Homo sapiens: one gene and its partner. The protein of the gene in region 1 interacts with the protein of each later gene in a biochemical or structural test. Each region holds a gene or a part of one and is shown on either strand. Other genes may lie near its edges.

Evidence for each region.
Region 2: of the proteins of HDAC11 (region 1) and CDC25A, one has a biochemical effect on the other in vitro, tested with the Homo sapiens proteins (one study listed by BioGRID).

The regions. Positions count from the first base shown.
Region 1 is NC_000003.12:13,504,292-13,507,182, forward strand, and holds the end of HDAC11 (histone deacetylase 11), read left to right. Parts: intron 1-176; coding exon 177-392; 3' UTR 393-2,125; downstream 2,126-2,891. UniProt on the Homo sapiens protein: Responsible for the deacetylation of lysine residues on the N-terminal part of the core histones (H2A, H2B, H3 and H4).
Region 2 is NC_000003.12:48,178,147-48,185,426, forward strand, and holds part of CDC25A (M-phase inducer phosphatase 1), read right to left. Parts: intron 6,550-7,280; coding exon 6,507-6,549; intron 5,691-6,506; coding exon 5,654-5,690; intron 4,885-5,653; coding exon 4,783-4,884; intron 3,651-4,782; exon of another isoform or gene 3,331-3,650; intron 2,695-3,330; coding exon 2,575-2,694; intron 1-2,574. UniProt on the Homo sapiens protein: Tyrosine protein phosphatase which functions as a dosage-dependent inducer of mitotic progression. Directly dephosphorylates CDK1 and stimulates its kinase activity. Also dephosphorylates CDK2 in complex with cyclin-E, in vitro.

The DNA of each region.
Region 1 (2,891 bases):
GCCACGGGAGGGTCTGCTCTATGGACTCAGCAGCAGCAGGAAAGGTGGGCGGCCTCATGTCAGGGAGGAGATGGACTGAAGCAACAGCAGTTTGGAGCAGGGCTAGCCCTGCAGCAGGACTTCCTGACACCATGGGGGTCTGGCCTGCCTGAGTCACCCTCCTCTTCCCCTAACAGGGCATCGTGAAGCGGGATGAGCTGGTGTTCCGGATGGTCCGTGGCCGCCGGGTGCCCATCCTTATGGTGACCTCAGGCGGGTACCAGAAGCGCACAGCCCGCATCATTGCTGACTCCATACTTAATCTGTTTGGCCTGGGGCTCATTGGGCCTGAGTCACCCAGCGTCTCCGCACAGAACTCAGACACACCGCTGCTTCCCCCTGCAGTGCCCTGACCCTTGCTGCCCTGCCTGTCACGTGGCCCTGCCTATCCGCCCCTTAGTGCTTTTTGTTTTCTAACCTCATGGGGTGGTGGAGGCAGCCTTCAGTGAGCATGGAGGGGCAGGGCCATCCCTGGCTGGGGCCTGGAGCTGGCCCTTCCTCTACTTTTCCCTGCTGGAAGCCAGAAGGGCTTGAGGCCTCTATGGGTGGGGGCAGAAGGCAGAGCCTGTGTCCCAGGGGGACCCACACGAAGTCACCAGCCCATAGGTCCAGGGAGGCAGGCAGTTAACTGAGAATTGGAGAGGACAGGCTAGGTCCCAGGCACAGCGAGGGCCCTGGGCTTGGGGTGTTCTGGTTTTGAGAACGGCAGACCCAGGTCGGAGTGAGGAAGCTTCCACCTCCATCCTGACTAGGCCTGCATCCTAACTGGGCCTCCCTCCCTCCCCTTGGTCATGGGATTTGCTGCCCTCTTTGCCCCAGAGCTGAAGAGCTATAGGCACTGGTGTGGATGGCCCAGGAGGTGCTGGAGCTAGGTCTCCAGGTGGGCCTGGTTCCCAGGCAGCAGGTGGGAACCCTGGGCCTGGATGTGAGGGGCGGTCAGGAAGGGGTACAGGTGGGTTCCCTCATCTGGAGTTCCCCCTCAATAAAGCAAGGTCTGGACCTGCCTTCCCAGGCCCTTCTGTGGGGGTGAAGGTGGGGAAGGCCTGCGGCGCCCAGATCACTGCCTTAGCAGTAGTCTTGCCTGTTCAGTGCAAGGGGCAGGTTTTGGGGGGAGGAATTCTTAGCGCAAGGACGGGCCTCAGCCCTGTCGCCTCCAGGGGGCCGCTGACCCAGGTGGGGAGAGGGCAGAAGAAGGGTGGGGGACGTGGGCAGGCCAGGCTCACAGGTGGAAATCAGGGATGCAGGGTGGTGCCCAAGCCAGGTCCTGCAGGAACCCAGGCCCAGGGAGGGACCCAGACACTGGTGAGGCGGGGCAGGGGTTCCTGGAGAGAGGGCAGCGAGGATCTCTATCCTGGCCTGGGGATTATGAACATAGGTAGCCGGGGCAGGGCCCTGGGTGGGACTGTGGCCTCCACTGGCCTCACCAAAGTGCCTGGGCCCCAATCCTTCTCCATGCCCAGGGGCCCCAGGTGGGCCAGACCTCTGGCCTGTTCCTCAGCCCTACTCATGGGGACATTCAGGGACCTCCAGGAAGTGGGCGGGGGAGCATCCACCCCTGCTAGCCGGCAGCTGTGGCCCTGATCAAATCAGGGGCTGGGGAGGGAAAGTGGGTCCATTGAGGTGGCCCTGCTCCATCAGCCCCCTACGGGACTTGTGTTCATTACAGTGAGGGGGTGCTCCCACTGTCTCCCGGCCTCCCTAATGCTCCCTCTGCTGCAGGGAGAAGGGTTCCAAGATCACAAAATGTCAACAATGCTGGCCTCCTGGACCAGACCCCGAGGCTCTAACAATGCACTCTGAGATCCCTACCCTTGCCGTTGGTCTCTGTCGCTGACTCGAGGCACCTAACATCCATTCACACCCAACACAGGCCAGCGACTTCTGGGGCTCAGCCACAGACATGGTTTGTCACTGTTGAGCTTCTGTTCCTAGAGAATCCTAGAGGCTTGATTGGCCCAGGCTGCTGTGTGTGCTGGAGGCAAAGAATCCCTACCTCCTAGGGGTGAAAGGAAATGAAAATGGAAAGTTCTTGTAGCGCAAGGCCTGACATGGGTAGCTGCTCAATAAATGCTAGTGTGTTATTTCATCTTCTGAGTCCTGTGGAGTTGGTAATGATTCCCATTTCACAGATGAGGAAACTGAGGCTTGGCAGGGGTGAGAAATTTGCCCCAGGCCACACCTCCCAGCAGATCTCAACAGTGGTAGAGCCAGGCTTGAATCCAGCTCTGCCAGATCCCAAAGTAAAAGTTCTCAGCTGCCTCACACTTGGCAGGGGGGTGGGGTGGGGGTGGGGGGTTACTCTGGACAGAGAAGGGTCTAGGATCCCAGGGTGATAAGGTCACTGGGCTGGGGTCTGGGACAGCCTGGGAATGGGTGGGCAGGCACAGCTGGGCTGTGATGGTGGCTCTGCTGCACAGTGGGAGGGGGCCCTGGCAGGGCAGTGGGTGGATGGGGTGTCTTCCAGGCCTGGGGTGCTTTTGGAGCGCTTATGGGGATGGGCTGCCCCGAGATGAGGCTGGGCTGGGGTGGGGTATCCAGGCAGGGGGAAAGGCAGAGCCTTGGCCGGGCAGAGTGACCAGAGCATCCCCAGTATCAGTGGCACAGCCTGGATGGGGGGCAGGGTGGCCCCTTGAGGTTCAGACAGGGTGTCAGGGAAAAGGACATGGGGTAGCAGGCAGGGGTCCCGATTGGCCCTGTGCTGGGTGGGAGGAGACTGATAAAGGCTGATGCTGACCAGGTGGTACTAAGGGCCAGGCCCTATCCAGACTCTAGCTGGGAACTGCATATGGAACTTCATGGCACTCTGAGGTGAGAACTGTTTCCATGCCTACTTCACAGATGTAGAAGCAGAG
Region 2 (7,280 bases), about 35 Mb from region 1:
TTATAAATGATTTGATGACCACACACAGCCCTGAGTAGTCAGTAGCCTTTACAGAGAACTCTTGCCAGAAGCAATTCACCTTATAATGGGTACTAGAGATAGCCTCTTGTGAAGAACAAGGTTTCTTTTATTAGAAGGTTGCATCAGTGAACACCGATCAGCATTGAGGACTGTGACAGTATGAGAATCTGCTGAAATGAGTTAGGGCAAGCAGATGCAAATCTCTATAAAGACCATAAAATGGCCTAGAGAATGCACTTATATATAACTCCAGTTCTGACAGGGGGGAATAAAGGGTAACTTCCTTCTATAAAATCTATCCTCGTTCTTTAGACTTGGGATTTAAATGCTCAGTTTTTAAACGAGGAATTACTGTGTGCCAGATACTACGATATAATCTTTATACATATAATCCAATAGAAGCCTCACAATACACTAAAGGTAGCTAATCCTTTCCTTTTTCTTTAGCAAATCAGGAAACTGGTGCTTAAGAGGTTACCAAGATTATACACCTCATCTGTTTGACTCCAAAATCCAAACTCTTCTCACCACACTATCTCCCTAGGAGAAAACCATTCCTGGAATTAAAATGGCGGTACCTCATTAGCCAACCTATAGTCATACTTTTTTTGGGAAACCTCTAAACATGGAATATAGAAAATTTAGAAAAACTGCTCATAAATCCACACCTGAAGATAAATCCTACCAATACAAACACTGCTAATACTGAATTATTTATTTTCTAGGCACTTTCAAATCCAGAAAAAAAAGTTTAGAGTTATTTTTTTCACAGTAGCAGGGTAGTCCCAATGTTATGACCTACAAGTAATCCTTAAAATCCAAATCTCTTTGGGGTATGAATCTGTTGTTAGTTAAGTGGCCCTCTGATTTTCTGAGTGGATCATGCACCAAGGAATCCTCTCTGCAGCTGGCCTATTCTGGTTCTGGCATTAGCTTTGCTTCACAATATAAAACAAGTTCTGAGCAGTCTCTAGTCCTCCCCAAGTGCACACTCTGGGAAATGGCAAATTTTTTTAGCCTAGGGGTAGATAACTTTATTATGGGGCAGTACCTTTATCACGAAAGCTCACACTATATCACACCAACATTTGTGAGGTATGTTCTGGGATTCCTAGGTGCAGATGTGATACAGGCTCTAGTCGCTAAGCACACACCAAATATATTGTTTCTGATACCCAACTCTTAAAGCATTACTGTGTACTTGGGAATTTAGAGATTGTTTATTGAGACAGGGATTCATTGTCCAGGCTGGAGTACAGTGGTCTGATCATAGCTCACTGCAGCCTCGAATTCTTGGGCTCAAGCAATCCTCCCACTTCAGCCTCCCGACTAATTGGGACTATAGGAACAAGCCACCACACTCAGCTTATTTTTTAACTTTGTACAGATAGGGTCTCACTATGTTACCCAGGCTGTCTTGAACTCCTGACCTCATGTGATCCTCCCACCTCGGCCTCCCAAAGTGCTGGGATTACAGCCATGAGCCACCACACCCAGCCAGAGATCATTAAATCCTGGTTTCCTACTTATGTATATCCTTTGGTAAATCATCCAAACCTCTCTAGTGGTACTTTCCTAATCTGTTCAAGTGGATTAACTCCACTTCACAAGACAAGAACATATAAAAGTGCTTTGTGCAAATGATAGACAGAGTAACAATACTGGCTGAACCTCAGAACACAAAGCAGATTGGAAAGGTATATTTTCAGATTTAAGATCCTAGGTAAACCTGGAAGCCAAATGTGGTCATCTTGCTCAAGTTGGGCCTCTCCAATCTATAGATGCTATCAGTTAATCCAATTCAGACCAACAGCAGGAAACTTTGGAAGTAATGACAGTCCCTGTCTGGCAAATACATAGCCCTGAAACGAGTGACCCCAAAACTGCCCAGCAGCCTGAGCATTCACTGTAATCCATAATAGTTCTTTAAAAAAATTAAAAATAAAAAAAATAGAGATGTGGTCTCACTATGCTGCCCAGGACTCAAGCGATCCTCCTGTCTCAGTTTTCCAAAGTGCTGAGATTATAGGCATGAGCCATGGCACCTGGCCCATAACTGTTCTTAACAAACCACCTTTGGAAGAAGTCAAGTGCTCTCTCTCCAGTTCCTTGAGAAGCACTTAGAATGCATAGTAAAGACCAAGTTTTAAGTAAGAGATCTAGTGTTACGGCTCTTTTAAAATTTGTCTCGCAGGCTTTCCGGTTTTTGCCAGAAAGCCCTTAAAAAAAAAAAAAGAAAAAAAGAAAAAAATAGGAAGAGATATAATCCCACCATACATACATTTAGGATGACCCAGGATTTCCCAGATTAACAAGGTCGATTATTCCTTGCACAACTCCAATATTTCAAACACCATCTCCCACTCTTACTACCGCCTGTCTGTTCTCCAGACACAGCAAAACCACCAAGAATGCTTGACAGTCTAATTTCAAAAGACAAAGTCAAGGTAAAAACAGCTAGTGCTACTGTAGTGCCTTCAATTCTGGATGAAAGAAGGTGTTTTAATCCTTTCTTCCTGTCAGGAATTCCCCTATGAAAGCCAGAGCACATACCATCCGAGCTGGGGCAGAGTTCTGCCTCTGTGTGAAGAGATCTTTACCCTCCTGGAGTCCATGAGAGTGCAGGCAGCCACGAGATACAGGTCTTACTGGCTTCTTAAACTCAAAGGCTTCCTGCAAGACATAGTTGAGACATCTACTGTCCATGAAAACCAACTCAGGCCTCAGCTTGGGTGAAAGAGGCAAGAAAGTGGGCACTGATCACCTTTCTGCCTCCAAATTAAAGTTTCACCTAATTCCAACAATAGATCTGCGTAACTAAGAATTTCCAAGGCTCTGTCAACAGCTAACTTCTAAAGTAACATCTTTTTCTTGTCATACTGTATTTCCTAACACAAGTATCTGCCAAATATACAAAACACGATGAATAAGCTAAATCACAAACTTTCTGAAATCTAAAGCAAAAATAAATAAAATCTAATATAATTGCCTGTGAATAGTTGTCAAAATTTTCCATCTAGGTCCATCTGTTTCAGGGCTTCATATTTTCCACCTCTTCCTACCAACTGGAGATAATTTTTTCTACTTATAATTATTCTATTCTATACTAAAAGCAATGAAAAAAAAAAAAGCCCTACTGGTTTACTCAACGTGGACGATTCTTACAAGCATAATGTTTTTTAAAGCCAGATATGATAGAATACATATCGTATGATTCCACTTTATGGAATGAAAACACTCACAGGTCCCTTGCCCTAAAATATTCACTTAAGAACTCATAATTAAGTATTAAAAGCAGTAATGGCTAGCACTGGCGTGGGTGGCTGAGTTCCCCGTTGCCCTTGGTCTCGGGGTCGCGGTCGGCACTGAGGCTGCAGCTATCATGGTGAACTTACTTCAGATTGTGCGGGACCACTGGGTTCATGTTCTTGTCCCTATGGGATTTGTCACTGGATGTTATTTAGACAGAAAGAGTGATGAACGGCTAACTACCTTCCGGAACAAGAGCATGTTATTTAAAAGGGTATTGCGACCCAATAAAGAAGTTACCTGGAAGTAAAGACTGGCTGAATTATAGAATGTTCACATTTTAAAGTTCTGAGAGAAATAAAACCATGAAGAATCAAAAAAAAAAAAAAAGCAGTAATGGCTAATATTACAGTGATTTCTATGCCAACACAGTACTAAGTACTTTCTGTGCATTAACTTTTTAACCATCAAATACAACCTGATTGTCCCGATTTTACAGGTGAGAAAACTAGACCTTGCAGGTTAAGGAATGTGCCCAAAATATTGAAGTAAAACAGGACAACTCCAGAGTGAGAGCTCTTTAACCACCATCTATGCTGTTTTCCCTTTAAAACAAAGCTCCAGGCAAGCAACCCTGAGAAGCTATTTCGGGGGAAAACCAGGCATCAGTACAGCTTTGCCCTGGTAAAAAGCACTAGAGGCTGATACACTGTTCCAAGCACTCAAGGCTGGAACTCATTTCCATATTCTTTCTCATGACACTTCCCAGGTTGATAAAGAAATCATCAGGAGAGTTCATGGAGGCAGTGGGTTTCACACTAAACCTGAAGATTGTAAGGACAAGGATTATGAACTGTGGCATTTCAGCAGGAATGGAAAAGGGGAGAAAGTAAATATATAGAAATACAGTAGAGAGAAGGCTGAAAAAATTACAACTGTTTTGGATGCCTACTCTGTGCAATGTCTAAAAGAACAAAAAAGCCAGGCTCATTCAGGGTAGATAACCAGAAATTCACCTTCCAAGCCACCATTTCAGTTACTCTGAGATTCCCTAGAACTTGTTGACCCCGTTCTTACAAATACTGCCAAAGAGCCTTTTCCTAAGCTTACAATTCATTTCAGGGTCAGAGCAAAGAGGCAAGGACAGCCTGGGCAGAGCCTTCCAGACAAACACTATTTGTACATGTAATTACTCCTGTGAGCTACAATCTGAGCAACTCCCGCCTGTCAGGCACCATTTTCAATACTTCATACATAATCTTACTTATTGCCACAACATCCCTAAAAGGTATTACTACTCCTATTTTACAAAAGAGCAAAGATTAAAAAGAGAAGAATTTGCCAACATCACACAGCTAGTAAGCAGGATCCAAACCCAGAATTCTCTGACTCCAAAGACCGCACATAATGGCCAAGTTTAGTCTCCCAGAAAGCAGCCCAGCCACTTCTAAGCCACTGACAGCCTGTGGGTTTCACCTCTGCCTCAGGTTAGTACATTGAAGTCACACTCACATTTTCCTTGTTCTCATCTGGGTCGATGAGCTGAAAGATGTCATGGTCAAGAGAATCAGAATGGCTCCTCTTCAGAGCTGGACTACATCCCAACAGCTTCTGCTATCAAAGTAAAAAAGGAAAATAATTAAGGCACACAAATAAAATTTCAGTGGAAAATTCAGTTCTCAAAAGAAAAAAAAGGGGGGTTGAATAGGGGGTAGACTAGCTCCTCACACACTGCAGTAGGTAACCAGTAAATGTGGCCAGGAATCCACCTTGCCAGGACACAGCCAGGACACAGCATAGAAGTTTCCATTCCATGGGTTTACAGCTAACCTCACAAGGTCTACAGTGCCCCCCTCAACAGGGATTACAGTGCCAAATCAATCCCCAAATAACATTTGCATCAAAAGAACCCTTCCTGGTTTAATAAAGCTCTGTTAGAGATGGAGGACAAATTCCTCCAGACCGAACATCTTGAGTACTTATGAGACTAAGGAAAGGCTGGGAATAGTGGCTCTTGCCTATAATCCTAGCACTTTGGGAGGCCGAGGCAGGAGTTTGAAACCAGCCTGGGCAACAGAGTGAGACCCCCATGTCTACAAAAAATACAAAAATCAGCCGGGTGTGATGGTGTGCACCTATATATAGTCCCAGCTCCTCTGGAAGTTGAGGTGGGAGGATCACTTGAGCCAGGGAAGCAGAGGTTGCAGTGAGCCAAGATTTTGCCACTGCACTCCAGCCTGGGTGACAGAGCAAGACCTTGTCTCAAAAGAGACTAAAGAAAAGCAGTTTTTACTCTCTAAATTAAGTCTCCTATCAAGGTCATGCTGGTAGCTAAGGAACAGATAACAGGTATTAGCTCAAAATAAACAAGGAACTAACTTACAGGTAGGGAATGTATTCTTCTCATAGGATTTTCAAGGCTGTAATGAGATCAGAAGGTAAATAATGAGAATAAAACAAGTAAAGAGGTATTCATATTAGCAGAGAGATAGTGTTTAGCCTGTAGCTTGGGGGTACAGTCACAGACTCCCATTTTAGGCAAGAGATGGGAGAATAAATTTCTGAAGCTGTCCTGTTCTCAGGAGCACCCCCAACACTAGACTTCTAGGTGAAAAAAAACAAACCCATGTCTTTTCTTAAAATACACACATTCGGCTGGGCGCGGTGGCTCACACATGTAATCCCAGCACTATGGGCACTATGGGAGGCCGAGGAGGGTATATCACGAGGTCAGGAGTCTCGAACTCCTGGCCTGGCCAACACGATGAAACCTCGTGTCTACTAAAAATACAAAAATTAACCGGGTGTGGTGGTGCACTCCTGTAGTCCCAGCTACTCGGGAGGCTGAGGCAGGAGAATCAGTTGAACCTGGGAGGTGGAGGTTGCAGTGAGCCACTGCACTCTAGCCTGGGCGGCAGAGTGAGACTCTGCCTCAGAAACAAACAAACAAACAAACAAAAAAACCCCACATGTTCTTGTAAGGCTATGATGTCAGAGCACAGAGTAAGGGTTTGGGTAAGACCCAAACAGAACACCAAAATTATAGCTAAAATAAAGGAGAAAAAGTTCTGAAAATTGCTGACACAAACTATTCATTCTTGAGATTCCAGAGTGTTTCTAGGCACAGGTAAATCCAGGGCTCCAGTCCAGTGTATGAAGAACTTCATTTAAATAAGGTATTTAAGTTTAGACACGTTTTTTCTACATATAAACATTTGAAAGCAGTGAATACATACTTTTCTTTACTGTCCAATGGCCCAGGAGAATCTAGACAGAAACCTATGGGGAAAAAAAAAACCTCTCAAGAAATAATACAAAAAACACCATTTTGTCATTAAAATTAAAACACTAAACAAAGTACCTGGGTCTTTATTTAAGTCAGGCAACAAATATTCATGGCTTGTACTTTTGCCAGAATTGATGTTACGTCTATTAGATTGTCAAAAATGTCATGTTTGTACAAGTCTTAATATTTTCATAGCGTATTTACTGTTTTTTCTCCTATTTGCAAATAACATCAAGGGAAATAGGATTTGAGAAGAGGGTGAATAAAACTGATTCATATCATGATTGTTTGGTTATTCAGATAGAGGTGACCCAGATAACTTTCTGTGAGTTCCAACCATAGAAACAATAGGTACCAGATTTTCTTGGCATAGTTTTTAAACGTTTTACCTTGTCAAATCATATGAGGCTTGAAAAATACAACTACTGACCAGGCACAGTGGCTCACACCTGTGATTCCAATACTTTGGGAGGCTGAGGCAGGCTGATGGCTTGAGGCCACAAGTTCAAAACAAGCCTGGGGCAACATAGTGAGACTTGACTCTACCAAAGTTAAAAAAAAAATTAGTTGGGTGTGGTGGCACGTGTCTGTAGTCCCAGCTACTTGGGGAGGCTGGAGTGGGAGGTTCGCTTGAGCTCGGAAAGTTGAAGCTACAGTGAACCCTGATTGTGCCACTGTACACCAGCCTGAGACCTGGAAAACAGAGCAAGACCCTGTCTCAAAA